2 separate regions of the Homo sapiens genome follow, and region 2 is reported to be linked to region 1. The links are microRNA targets in miRTarBase. Many come from high-throughput screens and were not tested one by one. Region 1 holds a microRNA gene; the other region holds the end of a gene's coding sequence.
What was found. Region 1 holds the annotated microRNA hsa-miR-3620-5p (GUGGGCUGGGCUGGGCUGGGCC, at 9,551-9,572, opposite strand). A microRNA usually pairs through its seed, bases 2 to 8, with sites in the 3' UTR of a target mRNA and lowers its output. Matches are read on the target gene's strand: a 7mer-m8 pairs with bases 2 to 8, a 7mer-A1 pairs with bases 2 to 7 and ends in A, and an 8mer does both.

Region 2: miRTarBase lists ORC6 as a target of hsa-miR-3620-5p. The part of its 3' UTR that is shown has no 7-base or 8-base seed match.

Annotation. Positions count from the first base shown.
Region 1 is chr1:228,091,168-228,106,856 of GRCh38, reverse strand. It overlaps MIR3620 (microRNA 3620), which reads right to left and starts at 9,594; the gene lies at 9,516-9,594. It overlaps ARF1 (ARF GTPase 1), which reads right to left. Exons shown (of 5, transcript NM_001658.4): 2 at 9,595-9,779; 3 at 9,405-9,515; 4 at 9,142-9,266; 5 at 7,645-9,005. The coding sequence starts at 9,742. The coding sequence ends at 8,844. C1orf35 (chromosome 1 open reading frame 35) reads left to right here and starts at 3,532. Exons shown (of 8, transcript NM_024319.4): 1 at 3,532-3,723; 2 at 3,808-3,958; 3 at 4,169-4,214; 4 at 4,297-4,379; 5 at 4,475-4,547; 6 at 4,692-4,777; 7 at 5,384-5,518; 8 at 5,603-6,126. The coding sequence starts at 3,630. The coding sequence ends at 5,726. MRPL55 (mitochondrial ribosomal protein L55) reads left to right here. Exons shown (of 5, transcript NM_181463.3): 5 at 1-172. The coding sequence ends at 97. RefSeq lists enhancers at 4,766-5,486, 6,597-6,836, 8,422-9,621, 8,708-9,677, 9,678-10,647 and 3 more and silencers at 3,768-4,037, 4,198-4,367, 4,618-4,697.
Region 2 is chr16:46,696,657-46,709,074 of GRCh38, reverse strand. It overlaps ORC6 (origin recognition complex subunit 6), which reads right to left. Exons shown (of 7, transcript NM_014321.4): 7 at 10,681-11,617. The coding sequence ends at 11,490. It overlaps MYLK3 (myosin light chain kinase 3), which reads left to right. Exons shown (of 13, transcript NM_182493.3): 13 at 1,312-6,793. The coding sequence ends at 1,371. Among named protein-coding and RNA genes, the nearest start is that of ORC6, 13 kb to the right of the region's middle.

The DNA of each region.
Region 1 (15,689 bases):
GGCTCAGCTCCAGTCGAGGAAGGAGTACGAGCAGGAGCTCAGTGATGACTTGCATGTGGAGCGCTACCGACAGTTCTGGACCAGGACCAAGAAGTGACCGTGGCTCCAGCCACCCCGGGACATTGCTAAGATGGGAGGGCTGTTCTTAAATCACTCGTTCTTGAAGCTGCCACCTGGAGTCTGTGTCTGTCTCCCCACTTGGTGTGTGCCCCAGACTGGCAGCTCATCCCCTGAAAGGCATCAGCTCAAGCACAGAGAGAGCTCAGTGGACTAGCAGGGTGAGGGTTGGTGTAGATCAAACCTGTGGGTTTTGGACACTGCTCTGGGGCTGTGGTGCACGTGGACAACCATGTGGGCAGTACCCAACACCACCAAGCTCTAAGCTCTGCCCTCCCAGCCTCAGGGGCACCAAGGTGACTGCCCTTCTGACAGCACAGTGGCCCTCAGGTTGGTTCCTAGGAGGGGCTGGGTGTTCTGGGACTCAGGCATCAACCTTGGTGGGGCAGTCCTAGGACCATCTGGACCACAGCCTGCAGCTCCCTGCCCTGGCCCTGCATTCCCAGGCTGCCCCAGGGAAGGTCCTGCCCTGGGAGGGTCCCCAGAGGAGCAGCCAGCCCTGGTTGTCCTTGACTCTTAATGGGGTCTGCAGAGCACTGCAGTTACACACAGCCCAGGGAGATCCACGGACCCTGCTTCATCTGTCCAGAGGCTGATTTAACTCAGGACCAGCTCCAGCTAATGTGCAGGCACCTTCCACACGCACAACAACCCAGGTTTTGGACAGCTCAGGGCCCAGACTGCTTCCTGTCCCTGTCCTGGGATGTTACTGGGTCCCACCTGGCAGGCTGTCTCTCTGACACCTGGAGTGCCCGACAAAGACTTCTTGCAGTGGTGTTCTGGGATTGCCAGGGAGGTGTGGGAGTGTGTTCTGTCATGCCCCTGTGATGACAGTGCTTATAACTGAGGAGCCTGGGCAGTGTCCCCACCTTGCAGGCCCATCCCTTGCCCCTTAAGCTTGTTCCTGGCCCTCTGCTCATCCCGCTGGCCTTCAGCTCTGCTGAGAAGAGCCTGCAAGGGATGTCCTCTGGCCCTGCCCCTGTCCTTGTGACCGAGCAGTGCCTGACCTCACGTGGATGGGCTGTGTGGCTGCCTGGGACTCTGCCTTGCAGGGTTACTTCCTGAGCAGCCTCCCTGGAGCCCCCGTCTCTGAAGTTGTGGCTCAATCCCTGTGGCATATAGAGCCAGCTGCCCGGCCACTCTGTGCACTCACTTGGCCCCCCCCCTCCACTACCCAGCCTCCTCCCACTATAGTGGGTTCCCCTGGGATCTCCACTGCCCCTCCACTCCCTGACCGCCACCCTCCTGGGTCCAGCTTCGCTGCTGTCACAGAGGACACCACTGTGACCAGTGCCCCCAGCTGGGCCTCCACCCAGCAGGCACAGGCCATGCAACCTCCACCCTGGTGACCCCTCCTCCTGTGGCCTACGGCTTGTCAGGCTAATGGGCTCAAAACTGACCAGGTCTTCCCCACAAACCTGGTCCTCATGTTGACAGGTGGCTGCTTCATCCTCACAGTTGCCCAGACCAGAGCCTCAGAGCCGTCCTGGACTCCTGCCCAATGTCCACCTGGCCCTGCTATCCCCTCTCCACCACACCTGACATCCAGTCAGTGGTCAGACTCCACAGCTGGGCCCTGCCCACATGGCCCAAGTCCACCCTGGCCTGGCAAGCTGCAATGGCACCCAGGAGATGATGCCCTACACCCCAGGGAGCCTTCCTGGGAGTCGGCCAGTCACCTTCTGTGTGCCTGGCTGTGGCCTGCTGCTCTGCCCTCGCCATGCACCTGCTCCATGATGAAAGCTCATGCAGTGCCTCATGAGGGAGATGGCAGCCAGTACTTGCTAAGTAGATAGATGAGCCAGACGTGTGGCTGTCTGCCAGCCTGCTCTAACAGCCTGACCCATGGACTGGGTCACTAAGAAACAGAAATTTCCCACAGGACAGTAGACCTGTATTTCATCCAGTTCAACCTGTGGCTGGAATTGCCCCAAAAGTGGTGGCAGTAGAGTTCCCACAAGGGAGTGCCCCACACCATCCTGAGATGGGGCTGGTTAGGATTCTACAGATTGAGCATGCCAGGGTGATTCGCCCAGAGCATTTATTCGTGGGGCTTTTGTACAGAGTGGGCTGCAGCAGTTCTTGCAATAGGCAGTGAGAGAAATGAAGTTCTCTCTAGGTATGTCCGTGGGGGAGGGGGTTGGTGAATGGAATTTATATGAGGGTTTGAGGAATCTGGCTCAGGCTGAGTCCAGTTTCTTTCTGTGTTTTGAGCAACAACCTAGTTACTGTCATCTGTGCCTGGGAACGTTCATGGCTATGGCTCGGGTTCAAGTCTGCAGAGGAAATTATACAGTTGGCGAAGTCACAGAGTGGCCAAGGGACTCTGTTTCTCAGTCAGCACTGGGAATGAAAGTGGAAAGGGGAAGCAGGGGTACGTCACAACCTCCAAAATCAGGGTGCCCAGCACGCTGAGGTTCTGGTAAGGGGTTTCTTCCAGACTGCAGACTTCCTTCCCGCTGCCTTCACACAGTAGAAAGCTGCACAAAGCTCTTGGGGTCCCTTTTATGAAGGCTCTGTCCTCATGACCTAGTCACCTCCGAAGCACCAACGCCTTGGGGTGAGGATTTCACATGGGAGTTAGGGTGCACATTCAGTTTAACACGGCAGGGATAGGACCAGTGCTCTGAGGGTGTCTGGGTAGCTGCTGGTTCATCCAGAAGTTTACTGGGTAATACTCAGAAATTCCACAAATCATTAAGGTCATTACCTTGTTAAGCTCCCGATATGGAATCGCGACTAGCAGTGACCAATTGGCGGTGTTAACTAGGCGCATCTTGTGTGTTTTCTTTTTTCTTTTTTTATGAGACAGGGTCCGCTCACTCGTTCAGGTTGGAGTGCAGTGGCGCGAAGTCCTGGGTTCGAGATCCTCCCGCCTCAGCCTCAAAGCGTTGGGGCTACAGGGGCGCGCGCGCGCCTGGCCCATTTTAACTTCTTATTTTTGAGACAGTCTCGCTCTGTCGCCCAGGCGGGAGTGCAGTGGCGCGATCTCGGCTCACTGCAACCTCTGCCTCCCGGCTCAAGTGATTCTCCTGCTTCAGCCTCCTGAGTAGCTGGAATTACAGGTGTGCACCACCACACCCGGCTAATTTTTGTATTTGAGTAGAGACCGGGTTTCACCATGTTGGACAGGCTAGTCTCGAACTCCCGACCTCAAGCGATCCGCCCGCCTCGGCCTCCCAACTTGCTGGGATTACAGGCGAGAGCCACTCCGCCCGGCCCCGTTTTAACCATTTTTAAACTTCCAGTTCAGAGGCGTTCCCGCGCCCGGCAGGGTAGGCGCAGTGCGCAGGCGCCCAAAGCCGACGTGGAGGTGATGCGCGGGAGCACAGATCCGGGGCAGTGCGCTGCGCAGAGGCGCGCGGCGAAGCCGAGTGGGCGCGGGAGTGACGTCACGGCGCGCGACGCGGAGGCGGGGTCGGGCCTGGGTCCGACGGTAGTGGGTAGCGGGTCTCGGGTTGCGGGTTGCAGGTTGCAAGCCGCAGGCCCCAGGCAACTGCCTTCCCGGCGCCATGTTCGGCTCCAGTCGTGGAGGCGTGCGCGGCGGGCAGGACCAGTTCAACTGGGAGGACGTGAAGACTGACAAGCAGCGGGAGAACTACCTGGGTGGGTGCGCGCGGTGGGCGGGCTCCGGGCTCCGGGCTCCGGGATCCCGGGCGGGCGCTGGACTCACAGCGTCTACGTCCGCAGGCAACTCGCTGATGGCGCCGGTAGGCCGCTGGCAGAAGGGCCGCGACCTCACCTGGTACGCCAAGGGCCGGGCGCCATGCGCGGGCCCGAGCCGCGAGGAGGAACTGGCAGCCGTGCGGGAGGCGGAGCGCGAGGCGCTGCTGGCCGCCCTGTGAGTGTCCGCGGACGGCAGCGGTCGGTGCCTGGGACGGCGCTGCCGGGGCAGGGTGGGGCCGGGGCCGGGGACTGGGGGTCGGGCTGGGCGGGAGCGGGGCTGCGGGGACTCGCGCGGGCGGGACCCTGAGGACGAAGGCTGGAGTGGTGAGGACCTGTGGTGGGAGGAGGTCCGTCCGTCCTGACGCCTGCCCCGGCCCTCTCGCAGTGGCTACAAGAACGTGAAGAAGCAGCCCACGGGCCTGAGCAAGGAGGTAACTCCCCGGGGTGGGGGGCGCGTGGAGGGCCGTGGGTGTGGGGCCGACTCGAGCGCTCCCTGTGCTCTCGCACCTGCAGGACTTCGCGGAGGTCTGCAAGCGGGAAGGAGGCGACCCCGAGGAGAAGGGCGTGGACCGGCTGCTGGGGCTGGGGAGCGCAAGGTGCGGGCGGGTTTCCAGGGGAGGGCAGCACTGGGCTCGATTGCTCGGGTGAGGCGGACCCCTGCCGTACTGTCTTCATCGCCATGTCCCTGCAGTGGCTCCGTGGGCCGCGTGGCGATGTCCCGAGAGGACAAGGAGGCCGCCAAACTGGGGCTGTCTGTGTTCACGGTAATCCCCCGCCCCGCCTGACCGCAGCAGGGGCTAACAGGGGTGGGGCGGGGCGGGGGCACTGAACGGAGCTCCCCGGGGCGCTGCGGGGCGTGGTGTGGGGCCGGCCCGCAGACTCCTCCGCAGAGCTCGCTTCTCCCGCAGCATCACCGCGTAGAGAGCGGCGGGCCCGGGACCTCGGCAGCCTCGGCCAGGAGGAAGCCGCGGGCGGAGGATCAGACGGAAAGCAGGTGAGGCTGTGCCACCTGGGCTAGCTGTGCCCCGGGGTGGGGGGTCTCGGGAGGACCGGAGCGGCTCCCACTCGGGCAGGTGGCAGCTTCTCTTGGCGCACCGGCCCGGCGGGTGGCCTGCCCTACTTTACTTCCTGTCCCAGTTACTCCTAGGTTTTTCTCTAGGGGAGTTTCTCGGGTCACCCTTGAAGAGAGGTCCTAAGTACTGGCAGTGGTCGGGCGCTGTGCCGTGGGAGGGCACTCAGGACCTGGGGCGGGGCCTTTTCCTGCCGTGGGTGGCACCTCCAGGGCTTCTCCTGGATGGTGAGCCTGGGCCTGACCCTAAGAGTGGCCTGGTGGGTGCAGGTAGGAAGGTGTCAACCTGCCAAGGGCACGGCTGGGGTGGGGCAGGGGCGTGCTGTGGAGATGGGGATATTGCATCTGTTTCTAACCCACGTAGCCACTGGCCACGTGACTACGTAACTGAGGAGTGGAATTTGTAGTTTGATTTAACTGATTTAAAGACGCACTTGTGGGTGGTGGCTTCATCTGGATGGGGCCTGCTTGTGTTCACTCTCTTGGCTTGCAAGACTAGGGTCTGAGGCACACCTTGTATCCTCCTTGTAGTTGTGAGAGCCACAGGAAAAGCAAGAAGGAGAAGAAGAAAAAGAAAAAGAGGAAACACAAGAAAGAGAAGAAGAAGAAAGACAAAGAGCACAGGCGGCCAGCTGAGGCCACCTCCTCTCCCACATCTCCTGAGAGGTATGCCCTGGTCCATATCTGCCTCTTGGGGGTGGGGGCCTGGTTGACTCCTTCCGAGTGACTGACTGCCATTGGTCTCCCCAGGCCCAGGCACCACCACCATGACTCCGACTCCAACTCCCCCTGCTGTAAGAGGAGGAAGCGGGGACACAGTGGGGACAGGAGGAGCCCGTCTCGCAGGTGGCATGACAGAGGCTCTGAGGCCTGATGGCTGGACCCTGCTCACTGCTGTTGTGGGACCCTGAACCCTCCCTTCACCTTGCTTGCCTCCTGCCTCGGAAGCTCCTTGGGTGTGGGTGAAGCCCGAGGCTGCTCCTGTGGAAGTGGCTCTGGGCACCAGCCTGTGGGGCTAAAGACTTGACAGCTAGCTCTGGAGCAGCCGGCTTCCTGGAAAACCTCCAGGTTTCGCATACCAGGGATGGCCCCTGGCTTGGCCTGCGAAGGTGAACCTGCCCAGATTTATCAGTAGAGGCTGGACTCCCTCTGTGTCCTGCCCATGGTTGCAGCAGCCATGGGCCTATGAGCGGTCTAACTGTGGCCAAGTATGGTGACCTCTATTTTTCTTTATATTGACTCTTTGTATTTCAATAAATATATTTTAAAAGGAAGGTATATCAAATTGGAAGGTCAGTATCAGGGGTTAATGAGATCCCACTGGAACGTCGGAGCTGGGGTCTGTCTCCCAGGAGTCTGAGACCTGGTGATTTTTTTTTTTTTTGAGTTTCACTTTTGTTGCCCAGGCCGGAGTGCAATGGTGTGATCTCAGTTCACTGCAACCTCCGCCTCGCGGGTTCAAGCGATTTTCCTGTCTCAACCTGAGTTGCTGGGATTACAGGCGCTGCCACTACGCCAGGCTAATTTTTGTTATTTCTTAGTAGAGACGAGGTCTCACCGTGTTGGCCAGGCTGGTCTTGAACTCCTGACCTCAGGTGATTCGCCCGCCTTGGCCTCCCAAAGTGCTGGGATTACAGGTGTGAGCCCCGGTGCCCATCTGATTCTTAATGTCCTGGGGGAATGTAGTCCTCCCATGTGTGCCCAGAGCCCCCACCAAAACCCAGGGAGGGCTGAGGCCCTGGAAGCAGGTGCTCAGCTGGCAATGTGGGAACCTGGGGCAGGGAGCCCTATCCCTGCGACAGGTGAGGTCAAAGACTGCAGTCTGTGGAGGCACAGCCTCAATTGGGTGTGGGGGTTGGGGAGCTCCTCCAACTGCCTGCTACCCCAACCCTCAGCTCCGCTTCTCCAGAGGCAGTGGGCTGGGTGTCCCTTCTGCCTGACCCTAAGAAGGATCAGGGCTGTTCAGGATGTGTGCGGCCACCAGGCTGCATGGCATAAAGACAGATGGCACCTGGGCTGCATCACAGTTCAATGCAGCGTTGCAGTGTTGGGATCAGAGGCATGAGCTCCCTCACCTGGCCTGTTTCTGATTTCAAGGGAAGTTATGCAGACCTTCCTCAGGGCCCTGGCCAAGGTGTAGCTTGTGGCTTTGACCTCTGCCCTCACCCTCGGGTGGCTACTGGAGTAGAGACTGTGCTGTCTTGGGTGCTGTCAAGGGGGATGAAGGTTGGGCCACCTAGCCAGGGCAGCCCTCTCTTTTGGGACTCTGCCCAACAGAAGGCAGACCTTAGACCTGCTGATGGCCCCATCCCAGAAACAGGTACCCCCAGACTGGCAGCCCCCTGCTGCATGGCATCTTGAGGAGAGGTGGGGGCTGTGCCCACTCAGGCAGGGACCATTCCCTGGTTGGCACAAAGCCCTATGTATGCTAGCAGTGGCCCTGCCCCATAGCCAGCTATACAAAGTGGGGTTCAGCAGCAGGCCGATGGAGGGAAGGACGGAGGCTGAGGTCTTCCATGGTGCCTGCTGACCCCTGCCCTGTATGGCCCAGGTCTCATTGGCTGGGCCCGACAGGACTGCAAACGAGATCAAGGTCACTGTGGGCAACCATGCTGGAAGAGCCTCTCACACAGACACAGAGAAGTGCCTGCACACTCAGGAGGGAACATGGGGAGGGTGTGGACTGAGGTGGCGGCCCTAGGCAGTCACCTGTACTTCCTAGAGTAAAGCTGGCTGATGCACCCACCATCTCCTGGGGGCAGCATGCCTGTGTGGAAGCACTGGAGAGCCGGTGAAATAGTTAAGAGATTTTATTCTAATAGCTATAATTACAGTGCTTGTTTGTCGAAATGAAAACTGAAAACAAGTATACAAAACAGTTGATTACTAATCGTGTATTGAAAGCAGTAAGAGGTTCCACGACACCAAATAGACCAGTTCTGAGGTTTCCCCAAGATAAATTTAACAGCTCCAGCTTCAGTGTTTATCAAAATACAAAAGAAAAAAGTAGAGGTTGTCTTTTTCGATGGCAAATCGGACCCTTGCAGGCTGAGGGAGAGAAAGCTACATCACACACAGAGGTGGGGTGCTCCCGAGGGGCTGTGGGTCTAGGTGGACCGCCTGCCCGGCTTGCACGCGCTCCTGCTGGTGAGGCCCCAGACATCCTGCCAAAGTGTCTGAGCGAGCACGAGTGTTGGGGACGACGGACCCACTCTGGCCACACGGCGACCGAGGGACAGATGGGGCCCTGCGTCCCATAGGCTGCCTGAAGGTGGGTAGGGCGGCCTGCGGCATAGTGGGGTGGCTGTGGGCTCCCAGCCTGGCCCCTGGGAACCGTGGGAGCACAGGGACAAGCACATGGCTATGGAATGCAGGGTGACCCAAGGACAAGCGAGTTGCGGGGATCTCTACTGTGACCATGCAGAATTGATCGCAGTCTGCTGCGCCACCACCACCTCATGTTCCCGAGGGGAACAGCTGGGCTGGCGACTGGCATCCAGGCCGTAACTGCAAATCTATGCTAGGCGGGGTCTCCCTTCTGTGTGTTCAAGTGTTCTCGACTTGGATTCTTAACTATTTTAAAAAATGCACTGAGTTTGGGTTAAAAACCAACCACCAAAATGGATTTCAACACAGCTCTAAAGCCAAGGGCGTGGCCGGCTCTCCCAACACAGCGACTCCTGGAGGCCAGGTGCCCATGGGCCTACATCCCCTCTCAGCACTGAACAGTGAGTTGATTTTTCTTTTTACAATAAAAAAAGCTGAGTAATATTGCATAGGAGTACCAGAAACTGCCTCATTGGAAACAAAAACTATTTACATTAAATAAAAAGCCTGGCCGCAGGCTGCGTCTGCCACATTTACAGCACGGTGCGATGCACACGGTGACCAAACCACGGAGGCAGCTTCTGGCACTCACACCACGAGCCGCACGTTTGCCACATGAGAGTAAAGCAGAGGGCAAGAGGAGTGAGAGGGAGGGGGGTCGCGTTCACTTCTGGTTCCGGAGCTGATTGGACAGCCAGTCCAGTCCTTCATAGAGCCCGTCGCCGCTGGTGGCGCAGGTGGCCTGAATGTACCAGTTCCTGTGGCGTAGTGAGTGCAGCCCCAGCTTGTCTGTGATCTCGGCCGCATTCATGGCGTTGGGGAGGTCCTGGGGGAAGGAAGGGTTGGTGGGAAGGGCTGTCCACAGGACAGAGAAAGGGGCCCCACCAGCCTCCAGTAACCCCTACCACCAGGCGGAACCCACACTGGCTCCTCACATTCCCCAGGCTGGCCCGGGCGCCTACCTGCTTGTTGGCGAACACCAGGAGGACAGCATCCCGGAGCTCGTCCTCGGCCAGCATCCTCATGAGCTCCTCACGGGCCTCGTTCACACGCTCTCTGTCATTGCTGTCCACCACGAAGATCAGGCCTGCCGGGCAGCCAGTGTCAAATGGTCATGGGAACACAGCCCCCCTGCCGCATCTATGGGCATCGATGCCCCATCTATGGGCTGGCCCCCCCTCTCTAGAAGCAGGAGTGCCCATGGGACCAGGCCCCAGCCACTTACCTTGTGTGTTCTGGAAGTAGTGGCGCCACAGGGGCCGGATCTTGTCCTGGCCACCCACGTCCCACACAGTGAAGCTGATGTTCTTGTACTCCACGGTTTCCACGTTGAAGCCTGGGTGCGGGATGCAGGGTGAGGCCTTGTACCTTGGCCCAGCCCAGCCCAGCCCACTCCCTGCTGGCCCCCACCTCACCTATGGTGGGAATGGTGGTCACGATCTCACCCAGCTTAAGCTTGTAGAGGATCGTGGTCTTCCCTGCAGCATCCAGGCCCACCATGAGGATGCGCATTTCTTTTTTGCCAAAAAGGCCCTTGAAGAGGTTGGCGAAGATGTTCCCCATGCTTGTGGACAGGTGGAAGGACACTGGCCAGGGACACCTGGAGAGACAAGGTGCTCCATGTCTGGTTCTGTGCTGCCCAGCAGTGGTTGCTCAGAACCCACCCACCCAGGGATGCACCACTGCCTCACCCCACCTCCTGGAAGCCTGCAGGGAAACAGGGAAAGAGCCCTGCCTCCCATGCCCCCCAAATCCACCTCAGGATGGGGGCTGAGGGAAAATGGCTGAGTCAGGAATTGAGAAACTGTTGCCCTCATCTTGGGAAGCTGTCCCCACAGCTGCATGGCCAGAAAGGCTGCCTCATCCCAGCCTATGCAGGAGGGGAGGCTGGCTGCCTGAGGACTGGCTTCCAGGTGCGTGCAAGGCTCCTCTACACCCCAACACAGAACCTTCCAGGGCCAGAGAGCACCACTCACTGTGCCTGCCCACACTCACAAGGACCAGAGCACACAGGGCCACGCCAGACTCAGCAGGACACCTTCAGGGACACACTCCCATGAGGACACAGCCTCGATGGGGCACGCCCGCCATGTCTGCCCCACACCGCAAGGGTAGGGGTTCCCTCAGCAGAACACAAATATCGGGGACAGCAATTAAGTCAGCTGGCACCCACCATCAGAGCCCTGCGGAGACTCCAGCAGGAAGGGCCTCCACTGCCCAGACGCCTCTGTGAGGACACTGAAGTTGTTAGGCTTTGGCCTCACTGGCCAGTGGGCAATTTCACGAATCAGGTGATTTTATCCCGAACAGGGACTTTAGAAAACACTGGTCACTTTCTGAAACAATGACTGCTTCTTCACTGCACCCGCAAGCGGGGCTTACCCCGAGTGAGGAAGGCTTCTGCCTTCAAGAGGACATGCCAGGAGCCTGTGAGCACACCCACCCCTCATCAGACCTCCTCCACCAGGGGTTCCACACACAGGTGGCTTTTGGCTGAATCACAGCCATGACTGTCCGCTGGTGACTCTCTCATCCAGTCACCCCAGCACGCTACGGCAAGGAAATGCCTCTTCTCCATTTCTCAACATCAGCAAGAGCCCACACATGCCTGTGTGTTTCAGTGGGTGTGAACTGGCCGCCCGTGTCTGATTTAACACTGCCATCATCCCAGATGAGCCACAGAACCCCTTCAAGCTGGATCAGTGTCCTTTGGACACTTTGCTCTTGGTTTTGAACATGTCACCTATTCTGAAATTTAAATGAGTTCTGAAATTTATAAGGACCTTCACTGTAGTGTTCCCTTTTTGGGGACGGCCAGGTTTTCTAAGCCCAGAGGAAGACCACCACCCATGGAGCACAGAAGAGACTGAATACCTGCCCTCTCAGTCCACTCCTGCAACCACTACCAATGAAGACACCAAAATGACACACACGCCTTGAAGGGCAGAGAGAAAAGGGAGGAAGACCTTGGATGTGATGATTGACCAGGCAGAGAAAACTGGACCGCCTGGGACCCAAGGGATGAAGCTGGGACTGCCTAGGGCAGCAATGTCCAATCTTGGCTACCCTGGGCCACAATGGAAGAAGAATTGTCTTGGACCACACACAAAATATACTAACACAACAGCTGGTGAACCAAACCAAAACAAAAACCCCCAAAATCTCAATGTTTTATTAGAAATTTGTGTTGGGTCGGGTTCAAAGCCATCCTGGGCCACATGCGGCCTAAGGGTTGGACAAGCTTGGTCTAGGGGAGCAGCTGCAGCAGGGCTTAGGCCTGCGCTGAGCCATGACAACACACTTGAGCCATGAAATTCCAGAATAATTCCTGAGAGTTCTATATGCCCCAGCAGATCCACACACAAGCAACTGGAGCTCCGCCCACCCCCACCCCCCACCAAGAGACAGGCCTGTCTGCCTTTGAAAGGCCACCAACATAAGAGACCCAAATATAAAAGGAATCTGCAAGGAGGCAACCAAGACAGGAGACTGAAGACAGAATACTATTTTAACAAAGGACAAGGAGAGAAACCTGATAGATACACAAATAGCTGAAAAGGAAAATTCAAAATGAAGGTGCTCAGAAGGCAGAACAAAAACAAACAGAATGAAAAAGGAAGATGAGGAGTAACTTAAGATATCAACCAACAGAAACCCTAAAAAGAAAGAACGTACGAAATTACGGGGTGAAATTTTTCCCTGTTCCAGAGTGGGGACCCAGGAATCTGGGCTTCGGCCTCAAAGGGCTGAAGCGCAAAGCCAAGGACCTAGATGAGACCCAATAAAGGTGCAAGGTGGACTCCAGAATGCACAGGGGCAAATGACACCTCTGATGCCCCAGAGAATGGAAGACTCTGAAACACTGCTTTCGAAACCCTTTAATTCTATACCCAGCCAAAGTATCCAACAAGTGTTAGGGGAGAATGAAAATAACTCCCAAACTGCAGGGCCTCAGATCTCTCACATGCTCCCTCCCTAAGAAGCTCCCCCAGGGAACCAGGGAGAGGATGCGAGCCCACAGCAACGTGGAGAGAGAGCAGCAGCCTAGCCAACCCCACATGGAGAGAGAGCAGCAGCCTAGCCAACCCCCTCAGACTGGAGCAGGAAGTGGACACCTGCAAGAATGGGGCACGCCACCTACGTATTCTTATTATGGGGTTGGGCAACTCTAGGCAATGCGGAAAAACTAATAATGACAGGTTCGCATGAAAAACCCAAGCATGAAATGGAACGAAAAGAGGGCCTTTTATGAGTTACTCCAGGAAAACATATGGTGGAGGATACTCAGGGAGTCCTGATGTTGTTATTACTAGGGGGTTGGAAAGCTGAGGCGAGGGTGTGTGGTGTCAAAGGCTTGTTAACTGTACAAGTTAACAAGTCTAGGAGGAATAAACCTAGGACACCAAGTCAGCAGGGACTCAGGAATAAGGGTCGCCTGCCAGTTGGGCAGAGGCAGCACCAGACTGCCACGACCACTGAAGCACAGCACTTGGGAGAATTGACAGTAACACCCAGCCACTCAGGGGAAGGGGTGTCACACCGTCACCAACCCCCTCGACCCCAGCACTGTCCGTGATCCACACATGCCTGCTGCCTCCTCATGCCCGGGGCAGTGCCGCCAACCATGCCCAGGAGATCATGCAGCCTGCAGGCAGTGGGGTTTGTGATGCCAGTAATCCCAGGCCCTCCCCATTGGTGGCTTTTTTTTTTTTTTTTTTTTTTGAGACAGAGTCTCACTCTGTCATCCAGGCTGGAGTGCAGTGGCTTGATCTCAGCTCACTGCAACCTCTCAGGTGCGATCTCGGCTCACTGCAACCTCTGCCTCCCAGGTTCGAGATTCTCTTGCCTCAGCTTCCCGAGTAGCTGGGACTACAGGCGCGTGCCACCACGCTGAGCTAATTTTTATTTTTATTTTTAGTAGAGACGGGGTTTCACCATGTTGGTCAGGGCTGGCCTCGAACCCCTGACCTCAGATGATCAGCCCACCTCGGCCTCCCAAAGTGCTGGGATTACAGGAGTGAGCCACCACGCCCGGATTTTTTTTTTTTTTTTTAACAGACCAAAGCGTTAAGAGTCCCCAAAGGAGGGAAGCCACCCTGCAATGGAATGGCAGAACCAGGATGGGTGAACCTGAAGTCTCAGGTGTCAAGACATCGGCACACAGACAGCTTGGTCTCTCCTACCGACAAGCACATCTGTGGCCCTGCTGCACATATGGGCAGAGGGTGGCTGGCACGTCCTGCCTCGGCATGTTCCAGCATCCCCACAGGACCCTATACCTGGCAGCCCCTACATCATTTACTGCTTCTGTGACAGATGGAGACCCAATAGAGTTTCCTAAGAGGGAGAAAGAGTCCACAGCAACCCCCACCCTCAATTCCAGGGCCTCTTGGTACGGGTCCTAACTTGTGTCATGCCCAGGCCAGGTGCTGTCACCCTTTCTTCCACCAGAGTCCCTGCACACAAGCCAAAACCCGCTTTTCAGGTTCATCGGAATTATCCTGTGGTAGGAGCAAACCTGACTTTCTCAGAGCCTTCCTGCTTGTACACAAGGGGACCCCTCACACTTTGAGAAGGGGCTGCCCAGCAGGAGGATGCCAGGAGCCACCAGTGGCTACTTCTCTTTCCTGACCACGCTGTGGGCTCCAACTCTGAGGAAAAAAAGTCTTTTAGGAAGAATGTTTCTTTCTTCAGTGAGGACCACAGACCAATGGTAAAGGTGGCCTTCAGGCATTACACCAAAGAACGGGACAGTCAACTCTGGCAGCTACATTCCCCGACACCTCACTGTGCCTGAACAGGGGCAGGGAGAAAATGTAGCTCTGTGAGTTCACATCCGTTTTGTGTCCATGAATGGATCCAACCAAACTGGTCCAGATGCACATGGGGTCCAGATGCCTCTGTGGCCTGTACCCAGACCACCAGCCAGTACTGTCCTCGGTCCCTTGCAGATCTCAGGGATACTTTGGCATGAGTCAGGGAAGGGAACAGGCGCAGGCGGAAGGTTGATCATCTCCCCCAACCTGTCAGAGCTGGTGTATGTAACAGAATCTCTAAGTGACCTGAACTGACAGGAACCAACAGAAAGACAGAGACACCTCCAACCTCTAGCACAGGACAAACAAGCTCCAGGTCCAAGATTCTGTTCTGCTGACTGACATCCACGAATGGGGCTCACATGATGTGCTCTGCTTACATGGAAAGCCAGTGACATCGAGAGTTCTCTTTTTGAGACAGGGCCTCACTCTGTCACCCAGGTTGGAATTCAGTGGTTCGATCACAGCCCATTGCAGCCTTGAGCTCCTGGGCTCAAGCGAACCTCCCACCTCAGCCTCCCAAGTGGCAGGGAATGCAAGGGCAAGCCACCATGCCTAGCTGATTTTTAATATTTTCTATAGACAGGGTCTCGCTATCCTGCCCAGGCTGATCTTGAACTCTTGGGCTCCAGTGATCCTCCTGCCCTGACCTCCACAGTAGTTGGGACTATGTGTGTGAGCCAATGCACCCCACCCAGAGTTCTTTTTCAAAAAGCTTTTATTAAAGTCAAGTTCACTGACAGATAAATTACACACATCTTTATAGTTCATAATCTCAGTTTTACTATCTAATCTGAGGAAACTGAACAAAGCTGATGACTTCCTGAAGGGACTCATGTACATTACATAACATTTTAAGAATTTCTGAGGAACAACAGCCTTTCAACAGTCATACATATAGTGTAGATGATCAATTTCGTGAAAGCCTGTGTTCATGTCCCACACGAAGATTTTCATTTTAAGGGAGTCCTTAAAATGAAATGCAATATGGCCATTTATTCTCACCTGCACAAGCTGCTGCTTGTTTACCACACCAGCCAAATAAAGCCTATGGTCATCACGCTACCCGCCAGCCAAATGCTCCATTTCTGTAGGCCTGACATTTTTCTGTGACTGAGCACTGCATTACATTTTGTCACTATTTTACCAAAACTCACGTAAAGGGAAAACTAAATGTGCCGATACTGGTGACAGGCAGACACATCTCACAGGCTGGCACAATTGTGACACAGGTGCGAATCAAAAGGCATGCTCAGAGGGGAAGACACATGACCGAGACACTCCACGCACCCAATCATGTTGAAGAGACTTGCAATCATGCAGATTGAGACAAAAGGATGGCACACACATTCTAGAACTCTTATTCTGGGCTGCATCTGAAGGCGAGTTCCACTGGGAGTCTGCTGTTTTTTTTACACAAGTTTCAGGATGTTTTTAGAGGAGCTCATTAGGCATTACAACTCGACACAGTGACCCCACAGCCATTAGGAGATGAGGGCTGCGAGGCACAAGGGTCCCCTCTAACACATCTGCTGCTGGCCTTGAGTTAAGGGAGGGCATTATCTATCAGGTCTGACTTTCAGGTGGGGCAATCAGTGAAATTCAGTTTAGATCACTGTTTGTCAGCTTAAAATTCAAGGTGATATCTTAAATCAGTTTGTGTACTGACAGCCAGAAATGAATTCCATTTTTGT
Region 2 (12,418 bases), not on the chromosome of region 1:
CTCATGTCAAAAGCTGCTAGCTTGATTTAAAAATGTCACAGAGCAAAAATAACTGGCATAAAACTTACATTTGGTTTGTGCTTATATGGACACTTGAAGTGACAGAATGAAGCTTAAGCATATGTTCTCAGTGGCAATCATCGTGAAGCTCCTGAACTAACTGCTTAGAGCTTGAGGCCTGATTCTTCCACATTTCAGAAATGGGAGATAAGAAAGGCCTGTTAAACTTTTAAAACTTTATAATTTTGTTTACAACAGAATTCTTTAGTCCCATGGACATAAAACCTATCTTAAAAGCAATTGTGATCCAGGGAAGTGGCTTCCAACAATTTAATATGGACTTAGATCCTCACTGGGGATCCAAAAGCACAAACAAAACCCTTTATGTATGGAGCCAGTACACAAGAATACCTATACATGTACACACTTACCGGGAAACACACAACAAAAATTTGACTCAGGCGTGGTGGCCTGCACCTATAGTTCCAGCTATTTGGGAGGCTGAATGGGGAGGATCACTTGAGTTCAGGAGTTTGAGGCTGCAGTGAGCCGTGATCACGCCAGTGTACTCTAGCCTGGGTGACAGAGGGAGACTCCCATCTCTGTTTAAAAAAAAAATCACAACATTTTCTCTAACAGAATATGATGTATTCTGATATTTTCTATTCTGTGCCACTTGGTTTTATTTTTTAAATGCTGTTCACAACCCACCAATTTGATTTCATGACCCATTGCTCGGTTGTGAATCACAATTTGAAAAACACTGTTCTATCAAAGCATGATGTAGGCTGATGAAAAATAAAAATAAGACACTGTTCTAGGGTGCTCCATTTTTCATGTGAAAAGGGCAGGATAAACCTGGGTAACCTAGTGAGACTGTATCTTTACAAACAAGACAAAAGTTAGCTGGTCGTGGTGGTGGTTGCCTGTAGTCCCAGCTACTTGGGAGGCTGAGGTGGGAGGATTGCTTGAGCCCAGGAGGTAGAGGTTGCAGTGAGCCAAGATCACGCCACTGCACTCCAGCCTGGACAACAGAGCCAGACCCCATCCTGACCCCCCTACCCCCTCCCCAAAAAAAGAAAAAAAAGAGGGCAGGATGATGTATCTTCCCACTTCATATTTACTCCCAACATGCCCCTGAAAGTCATGTGACTATTCTATAATTATTTTAGAAACTTGTTTCCCTTTAGGTATCAGATTTAAACCAACCCCAGTGGCTGGACTCACTTAAATCCTTTTATTGTTTCTTCATAAGGCAACTGGTCTAAAATACATGCTTTTTCTTTTCTTTTATTCTCTCCTTGCCTCAAGAAACATTTCTATGTGGTGACTGCTGCCAACAGGTTAAGGAAATTTCCAACTTCTCCCTAATCTTCAACTCTGCTGCTCCAATGGGTCCAGAAATTACTGAGGCCAGTGGTGAAGTGAAGAGATGACTCAAACATTTAAATAATTTGGCTTTTTGGTATTATTGATTCCACTTATTTTGTAAAAATGGTTATGGCTGCTGCCTTCCTTGTGGATGAAAAGTGGCTGTAAAGAAGCTTCCTAAGAACGTTTTTTTCTGCCTTGTAAGATCACTACGTGTGAAATGCTCTGAGTACCTTTCAAATATACCTACTTTTGGTGGTAAGTGTAGGGATGCTTTAGGTAGGTACTTTGCATCTGTCGAATTTAAATTCTAAACTCACACTGATTAAGGAACTCAGTAGACTACTTTGCAGGGGCCATGTTATTCAGTGTTATCTCCTCCAGTACAAAGAATTCCTAGAATTTTGATTTGCTCAGGTGTGAGCTGACATTTTATTGTACTACCCCATTCTTGTGTTAAGCCATGTGGATTTAGGACAGTGATCTTCAAACTTGCTTTAACTTATGCTCCCTTTTGAGAATCAGCATCACTTGAAATGTCAAAATATGTCAACTCTCATAGCCAAATCAAAGAAGTGATCATTTTGACTGTGCTTTTTAAATCTCCACACACCTCCACCTCTCTCCTAATTCTGCCTGTCTTAACCCCTCTGTCTTAGTTATAAATTTCTGGTCTTGTAAGTCTGGAAGCTGATAGGCAATTTATGAAAGAGATAAGAATGTAATGAGGTTCCGCTTTCTGAGAAACACAGAAATGATACATCCTGAGACATAAAGGAAAGCTGCTCTTCTGCTGCCTCAGGCTGTAGCACTCTCAATGTTGTCACTCTACACATACACTTTCTATATACATGTACAGTTGACCCTTGAACAGGGTTTGAATTGCAGTCAACTTAAATGTGGATTTTCTTTCACCTTTGTCACCCCTGAGACAGCAACACCATGCTCTCCTCTTCATCCCACTCTGCAGCCTACTCAACAGGAAGATGATGAAGATGAACACCTTTATGATGATCCACTTTCACTTAATGAATAGTAAACATATGTTTTCCTCCTTATGATTTTAGTAACTTTTCTCTAGCTTACTTTATTGTAAGAATACAGTATATAAGCTGGGTGTGGTGGCTCATGCCCATAATCCCAGCACTTTGGGAGGCTGAGGCAGGCAGATCACTTGAGGTCAGGAGTTCAAGACCAGCCTGGCCAACACAGTGAAACCCCATCTCTACTAAAAATACAAAAATTAGTGGGGCGTGGTGGCGGATGCCTGTAATGTCAGCTACTCTGGAGGCTGAGGCAGGAGAACTGCTTGAACCTGGGAGGTGGAGTTTGCAGTGAGCCAAGATTGCACCACTGCACTCCAGCCTAGGCAACAGAGCAAGACTCCGTCTCAAAAAAAAAAAAAAAAAAGAATACAGTATATGTATATATACACACACACAAACACACACACACACGAACACATATGTGTGTATGGGTATTAACTGACTGTTTATATTATTGATAGGGCTTCCAGTCAACATTAGGCTATTAGTAGTTAAGTTTTTGGGGAGACAAAAGTTATACTCAGATTTTCTACTGCAAGGGGGTAGGCACTCCTAACCCTCACATTGTTCAAGGGTCCACTGTACATTTAAACACTTTTCTATATGCATTAGAGTAGCCCTGTCATCCCTTCACTGAAATCATACTGTTCTCAACATGGCAAGCAACTAACACTTTTTTTTTTTTTTGAGACAGGGTCTCACTCTGTTGCCCAGGCTGCAGTGCAGTGGTGTGATCTTGGCTCACTGTAGCCTCCGCCTCCTGGGCTCAGGCGATCATGAGTACCTGGGACCATAGGTGCCCGCTACTACACCCAGCTAATTTTTGTATTTTTAGTGGAGATAGGGTTTTGCCATGTTGCCCAACCTGGTCTTGAGCTCAAGCGATCCACCTGCCCCAGCCTCCCAAAGTGCTGGGATTATAGGTGTGAGCCACCACACCCAGCTTCAACTAACACATTTACGAACTTGTATACATGTATATTTAGATACTTTACCAACTTGTAAAATGGTTAAAGGAGTACTTTATTATGAAAAAATATACAATCTTTAAAATTTCCTTACTTCTACATGATTTTTGTGCTATTCCCATTTTTTTCCTCAGGTGAGCAGCTTTAGTTTTTTATTTTTTTTGAGAGAGTCTTCCTCTGTCACCCAGGCTGGAGTGCACTGGTGTGTTCTTGGCTCACTGCAACCTCTGCCTCCCGGGTTCAAGTGATCTTGTGCCTCAGCCTCCCAGGTAGCTGGGATTACAGGCGTGTGCTGCCACGCCCAGCTAATTTTTGTATTTTTGGTAGAGATGGGGTTTTGCCATGTTGGCCAGGCTGGTCTCGAACTCCTGACCTCAGATGATCCACCTGTCTTGGCCTCCCAAAGAGCTGGGAATATAGGCATGAGCCACTGTGCTTGGCCTCAGGTGAGCAGCTTTAGTCAATGTTGTGAATTTTAGATTTTAATTAGACATGCAACAGTTTCACTACCTTTCAGGATTTTTGTCCTGTAACAGAGGCTCTTGCTTTTTGACAGAGAGGTAGGCAGGTGGAGAGGTTATCCTGCTGCTGCAGTTCTCAAGTTGTTAAGTTTCCTCTGGAAGGCTAACCCTTGTTGGGAACTAACAGTTTCAATACCAGCAAGTCTAGGCCTGCTCCAAGTTGGTCAGCTGAAGAATGAACATCAGAAGACACAGCTGCTGAAAGTTGTCCTTTGATGAGACAGTGATAGTGATTTGGTAAAATGTCTTATTTTTTAAATGTCAGTTATCTTTCTTTAAAAGGTTTTTTGAGGGCAGCCTCCAGAAGGAGCTAGAGAGTATATTTTATAGTTCTATTGTGGTTCATACCCTGTTTTCGACTTAAGATTCTGGAGAATGCTATGAAACATCTCCCCAGAAAAAGACAGTTAATTACCATATCTAGAGCAGCACTGCCCAACAAAAATATAGTACAGGCTATACACATAATTAAAACATTTCTAGTAGCTTCTCTAACAAAACCCATTGAAAGCCAATTTTAATAATTTATATAACTTAGTGTATCAAAAATATTTCAATATGTAATCAACATAAAATTGAGATACTTTACCAGCTACTAGGGAGGCTGAGGCCAGAGAATCACTTGAACCCAGGGGGTGGAGGTTGCAGTGAGCCAAGATCACACCATTGAACTCCAGCCTGGGCAACAAGAGCAAAACTCCGTCTCAAAAAAAAAGAGATATTTTATATTCTTTTTCTCATACTAAGTCTCAAAAATCTGGTATATTTTACACTTAAAAACACATGTCAAGGCTAGGCATGGTGGCTCACATCTGTAATCCCAGCACTTTGGGAGGCCAAGGTGGGCAGATTGCTGGCCAACATGGTAAAACCCCATCTCTAAAAATATAAAAATTAGCTGGGCGTGGTGGCGCATACCTGTAATCCCAGCTACTTGGGAGGCTAAGGCACAAGAATCACTTAAACAGGAGGCAGGGGTTGCAGTGAGCTGAGATCACACCACTGCACTCCAGCCTGGGTGGCAGAGCAAAACTTTGTCCCCACCCCTGACAAAAAACAAACAAACAAACAAAACAAAAAAAAACCTGTCAATTCAGATGCTAGGTTTTCATCAGACGTACTTAATCTGTATTTAGATTTCTTAAAACTTACTGTGGAAAATGTATTTACATACTCAAGTTGTTTGAAACATAACTCACTGTTTTCCAATAACTGAAGTATCCACTTTTACATGTATTAAAATTAAATAAAATTAGAAATTCAGTTCTGCAGTTGCACTAGCCACATTTTAAGTGTTTAATAGCCACACGTGGTTAGTGGCATCTATATTGGACAGGGCAGATCTAGAGAGAATCCTGTATCTAACAATTTTAATTTTTTTCCCTTTATGCTGTTATTCCTTACCTAGAGAAACAATTTCCCTCCAAAGTTCCTTTGAGGGGTCTGTTTAGGCCAGGCCAACACAAGTGACCTATGTGGATTTTAGCATCCTTTTTTTGAAATTTGAGGTTTTATGAAGCTTGAGTTTTTCTGGATATTTTTAGTAATTTGCTGGTGTGTACTTAGCTCAAATACTTGATTGCAACTGTGTTGGGTCAACTATTTCTAATGGGACTTTTCCATTTGCATGTACAGTCACTGGAAACTGCTGGGCAGAGAAACTCTAAAAGGTAGTTGGGGCACACTTTTTCCACCTGTCAGATTGGTGAAGAATTGGTGAGGCTGTGGGGAAAATGGCATTCTCCCACTTTTGATGGATATGTATCCAAATAAAAGTCATTCCCATGCTTTCTTTCATCCAGAAATTTTATTTCTAGAAATTTATCCCTCCGTACTTGAACAATTGTATAGAGATTTATTCAAAATGATGTTTACTATAGCACTGTTGCTAATGGCCCAGTAAAAACAACCAACACATGCCTATTAGTTTGGTTTTAGTTAAATGAATTTTGCCACATCCATGTAGTGGAATACCTCACAGCTGTTATAGATAGATCTAGATATACTGAAAGCCATTTTTTCTTAAATTATAGAATGTATATATGGTATCATCCCATTTGTGAAGAGACATATGCTTATATGTGCATTAAAAAACCGTAGGATATGCAAGAAACTTAACAGTGGAGTGTGAAAAGTGGGTGATTGGGAGAGGGGGAATTCCACTTTTCATTTATCTTTCTGAACCTTTTGAATCTTTTTTTTTTTTTTTTTTACAATGAGCATGTATTCCTTTTTTTTTTTTTCTTTCCAAGATGGAGTCTCACTCTGTTGCCAGGCTGGAGTGCAGTGGCGCAATCTTGGCTTACTGCAACATCCACCTCCCGAGTTCAAGTGATTTCTCCTGCCTCAGCCTCCCAAGTAGCTGGGACTACAGGCATGCGCCACCACGCCCAGCTAATTTTTGTGTTTTTAGTAGAGATGGGCTTTCACCATGCTGGCCAGGATGGTCTCGATCTCTTGACCTCGTGATCTGCCCACCTCGGCCTCCCAAAGTGCTGGGATTACAGGTGTGAGCCACTGCGCCTGGCCCGCATGTATTACATTTATAATTAAAAATTCACAACTCAATGTCAAGTGTGAACCTTGTGTTGACCCTGATTTGAGCAAGCAATAAAAAGATATTTTTGAGACATTTAGATTATGAATTTCACATTTGATGATAGTTACTATTAATTTTGTGAGGTGTGATATTGGCAATGTGGTTAGATGACTTCAGAGAAAAAGGAAGGTATAGTTAAGCAAGTATGGCAACATCTAATAACTTGGGTCTAGGTGATGTGTATGGGTTTCATTATACTGTCCTCTTTACTGTTGTATGTATTTGAAAACATTCATGACAAAAAAACTTTTTAATCAGTTAAATAAACCATGAAGAACGGTTAAAGAAGTGAGCTTCCAAGAAGTGTTTATAATAACAGTACTGAAACACACGAATTCACTAACTAGTAAGCATCTGTATTAGTCAGGGTTCTCTAGATGGACAGAATAGGATATATATAGATATATGTAATATGTATATAGGTAATATGTATATATATGTAATATGTGTATATATATGTATATAAAGGGGAGTTTATTAAGTATTAACTTACATGATCACAAGGTCCCACAATAGGCTGTCTGCAAGCTGAAGAGCAAGGAGAGCGAGTCCGAGTTCCAAAACTGAAGAACCTGAAGTCCGACGTTCGAAGGCAGGAAGCATCCAGCACAGGACAAAGATGTAGGCTGGGAGGCTAGGCCAGTGTCTCCTTTTCACATTTTACTGCCTGCTTTATATTTGCTGGCAGCTGATTAGATTGTGTCCACCAGAATAAGGGTGGATATTTCCCAGCCCAGACTCATATGTTAATCTCTTTTGGCAGCACCCTCACAAACACACCCAGGATCAAACTTTGTATCCTTCAATCCAATCAAGTTGACACTCAGTATTAACCATCACGGCATTCATCACTGGGATTGTAATTGTGTTAGAAAACTGTAGAAAGGCTTCCTAGGAGGGCATTTGGACAAGACTGCTTTAAGGTAATTCCTCCACTCCCCAACTAATTTAAAAAATAACTAAGTACATATTATATTGCAAATAATAAAAATAATTACCATTACTTGCTTTCATGGCATAAAGAAAAAACAGACAATACTACTTATATTTATTCTCATATGCTATTTAAACAAGGCTCAGAAATTTTAGATTTATCAGAATCACATCTTAACAGGGTAATTTAAAAGTGAATGTGCCTGATTAACTCAAAATGGATTAAAGACCTAAATGTAAGAGCTTAAACCATTTAACTCTTAGAAGAAAACAAGGGAAAAGCTTCATGACATTGGATTTGGCAATGATTTCTTGGATATGATAGCAAGAGTACAGACCACAGAAGTAAACATAAATTGGACTATATCAAAATTAAAAGCTTCTGTGCATCAAAGGCCATAATCAACAGAGTGAAAAGGCAACCTAAGGAATGGGAGAAAATATTTACCTATCATATCTGATAAGGGTGAATATCTAGAATATATAAAGAGCTCCTACAACTCAACAACAAAAACCAAACAACCTGATTCAAAAAGGGGCATATTCGCTGTTTGTATATTTTCTTTAAAAAATGTCTATTCAAGTCCATGAAGAGATGCCCAACATCTTTCCCCTCATCATTAGGGAAAAGCAAATTAAAACCATAATGACATTAACACCTCACATCCATTAGGATGGCTACTATTAAAAAAAAAAAAACTAGAAAATAACTAGTGTTGGCAAAGATGTAGAGAAATTGGAATCCTTATGAACTGTGGGTGGAATGTAATATGGTATACCCTCTATGGCAGTTCCTCAAAAATTTAAAAGTAGAGGCTGGGTGTGGTGGCTCACGCCTGTAATCCCAACACTTTGGAAGGCTGAGGAGGGTGGATCACCTGAGGTGAGTTTGAGACCAGCCTGGCCAACATGGCAAAACCCTGTCTCTACTAAGTAAACTACAAAAATTAGCCAGGCGTGGTGGTGGGCACCTGTAATCCCATCTACTTGGGAGGCTGAGGCAGGAGAACTGCTTGAACCTGGGAGGCAGAGTTTGCAGTGGGCTGAGATCACGCCACTGCACTCCAGCCTGGGCGACAGAGTGAGACTCCATCTCAATCAGTCAATCAATAGAATTACCATATGATCTAGCAATCCCATTTCTGGGTGTATACCCAAAAGAATTGAAAGCAGGGTCCTCAAGAGGTATTTGTACACACATGTTCATAGCAGCATTACTCAACCCGTGTCACACTGATGGATGAACAAAATGTGGTATATACAACTGAATATTCAGCTTTAAAAAGTAACTTCTGACACGTTACAACATGGACAATCTTGAGAACATTATACTAAGTGAAAAAAGCCAGTCACAAATACTGTGATTCCACTTATATGAATCCTTAGTCAAATTCAGAGAGAGTGAGTACAATGGTGGTTGTCAGGGGATGTGGGGAGGAATGGGGAGTTGTTTAATGGTTAAGTCAGTTTTGCAAGATGAAAAAATTCTGGAGATTGGTTGCAAAACAAAGTGACTACATAATACTTAACCATAAACACTTTAAAAAGATTAAGATAGCGTATTTTGTTACATATATTTTACTACAATTTTAAAGTAGGTGAATGTGCTTAACTTTACAGGGTGATAAGTACATTGCTTTTGACTCAAAGCTAGAAATCTGTATCTTGGCACCAAATAACAAATTACATAGCTTCTATTTTTTTGAGATAGTCTCGTCTGTCGCCCAGGCTGGAGTGCTGTGGCATGATCTCGGCTCACGGCAACCTCCACCTTCTGGGTTCCAGCAATTCTCGTGCCTCAGCCTCCTGCGTAGCTAGGACTACAGGCGCCTGCCATCATGCCTGGCTAATTTTTTGTATTTTTAGTAGAGACAGGGTTTTGCCATATTGCCCAGGCTGGTCTCGAACTCCTGAGCTCAGGCAATCTGCCTGCCTCAGCCTCCCAAAGTGCTAGGACTACAGGCCTGAGCCATTGTGCTGGGTCTCAAATTACATACCTTCTTAATAAATGAGGAAGATTTATCAATTTTGGATCAAAGCCATAACAAGAGCTATTTAATGAATGCCTTCTAAATGCCGTGCACTTCACAAATACAATAGTACCTTTAAACCTCACAAGGCAGGTATTTCTATTTTAGCTACTGTTATTATTATTTTTTTAAGAGATGGGGTCTCCCTGTATTGCCCAGGCTGGAGTACAATGGCTATTCACAGGTGTGATCATAGCATACTACAGACTTAAACTCTTTGGCTCAAGTGATCCTCCTGCCTTGGCTCCTGAATAGCTGTGACTGTAGGTGCACACCACTGTGCCCATCTTTTCTATTTTATAAATAGGAAAACTTAGGCTCAGTAAGATTTTGGGCTTTTGTTAGGGGAGAAGTGGCAGAGCCAGAATTTAAACCCAAGTGTGTGTGGCTCCAAAGCTCATGTTCATTCCCCAATACCACAGGCCTTGCCAGACATGCTTATGTTGGGACCATTTGATTGTGGTATTTCTTTAGCCTTAGTCTGCTAAAGTTCTAAAACTAAAAAGGTAGGGGGAAAAAAGAGACATCACCTTTAGTCATTCTAGATCTATGTAGCAGGTATTATTCATTACCTGTAGCAGATAAAAGGCAACCATTATTATTACTGATGTCATTCTAAGTAGATTTTAAACATTTGGATGCAATCCTTTTATCATGGAAATATTTAATTATATCATATATTCTTAATTTTAGTTAAAATCATGTCTGGCATGATGCCTTTAGCAACTTCTTACCATCCAAGAAAAGGTCCTTTTCCATAGTCTTAAAATAAGTAGTATTTACTAAGTTTACACTTTTCAATATGTAGATACTAAAAAAAAAGCTTGATTTTATAAAAAGGTGGTAATGTTTAATTCATTATGAGACCTCCATATGTGAGATTCTTTCTCTCTTCTAATATTTTCTAAATACTTACTCATAGCAGGTACTGTCCTAAATGCTTTATATGTATTGGCTCAGAAACTCCTCCATATTATCTACGAGGTGGTACCATTTCTACTCCTACTTTATAGATGAGGCATAAAAAAGTTAATTAATTTGCTAAAGGTTTCACAGGTGATAAGTGGCTGAGCAGGGTTTTAAAGTCTGATTTGAGTTTGTGGTCTGGTGGGCAGTGTGGCTCAGTGGACAGGAACCTGGGCTTTTTCCTGTAGAGAAGACATAGCTTTTAGCATAAGGATTCCCCCAAACTGATGACAAGTACAACTTGAATGCATATATAAATAACATTTATTAACTTAGGCTGTACAATATATTGATTTAGTCAAATAAAAAATACCGTACACAAAAATTGAAGTAAAATCTGTAAGATGCCATTCAGACTGAATTTTATATTCTGAATAAGACAAGGGACTGCCATTCACTTAAAGCAAAATGGCTCCAATTCCGTTTATCTATCTATCTATCTATCTATCTATCTATCCATCTATCTATCTATCTATCTATAAGTCTCGCTCTGTCACCCAGGCTGGAGTATCTATCTATTTATTTATGAGATAAGTCTCGCTCTGTCACCCAGGCTGGAGTGCGGTGGTGCAATCTCGGCTCACTGCAACCTCTGCCTCCCACGTTCAAGTGATGCTCCTGTCTCAGCCTACTGAGGAGCTGGGATTACAGGCATGCACCATCACACCTGGCTAATTTTTGTATTTTTAGTAGAGATGGGGTTTCACCATGTTGGCCAGGCTGGTCTCGAGCTCCTGACCTCAGGTGATCCACCCACCTTGGCCTCCCAAAGTGCTGGGATTACAGGCGTGAGCCACTGCGCCCGGCCTCCAATTCCATTTTGTAGGAAAGCACATAAGGCTATACCAATCAGGCACTGTGGCTGGTCTAATGCTCACACCAGGGGCCAGCCCACTGCCCAGACTTAGCCTCCAGGTAGGCTGCTTTGCTATTTAAAGGCAACAGTCTTAGGATCCTTATTATAAAAGTTTAAACAAAATCCCAAAGCCGTCAAGTCTTCCTGGAGATGGCAATGTACTATCAGTTTGGAATGTATACCAGTTTGGAAGCTGAAATCACTCTGCTGTAGCCTTTTGAGCACTGGCAGCATTTTCCAAAATTTTTCTTTTCCATTCTTCATAATCCTGTGTCAGATCTTCATCTTTCTGTGGTTTATGTGGCATCTCCTCTACCTTCTCCATTTCTGACAGAAAATTATCAAAAGCAATTTCAAAATTCTTAGCTTAGAAATGAAATTTAAAAAAAGGTAAACTTGTTTAAATTGTCTAAAATAGAAAAGATACTGAAATGACATGGAGAAACAGCAGTTATCACTTTTTTTTGAGATGGGGTCTTGTAATGTTGCTCAGGCTGCACTCAAATTCCTAGGTTCAAATGATCCTCCCACCTCCACCTCTTGAGTAGCTGGGACCGTGGCTGGGACTATAGGCTCACACTATCACACCTAGCTTAGCTATCACTTTTTTCCCTCCCTTACACTCCAAGCATTCCAAGACATCTAATAATAGCTAACGTCTATCAAGCACTTAACTGGTGCTTGATAGGCACTGAACCAAGTACTTTAAATAGCATTATTTCATTTAACCCCTACTACACTCCGTAATAGGTGATAATATTAATCACATTTTATAGGTCAGGAAATTGAGGCTCACAGAAATTATACTTTCTTAGAATCCCATAGCCAGTGGTTGGGCATAGTGGCTCATGCCTGTAATCCCAGCACTTTGGGAGGTGAAGGGGGCGGGTCACTTGAGCCCAGGAGTTCAAGACCAGCCTGGGTAACATAGTGAGGTCCCATCTCTATCAAAAATACAAAAATTAGCCAGGTGTGGTAGCACATGCCTGTAGTCCCAGCTACTCGGGAGGCTGAGGTGGGAGGATGGTTTGAGCTCAGGAGGCGGAGGCTGCAGTGAGCCGAGACCGTGCCACTGCACTCTAGCATGGGTGAGAGAACCAGGCCATGTCTCAGAAAAAGAGAAACCAA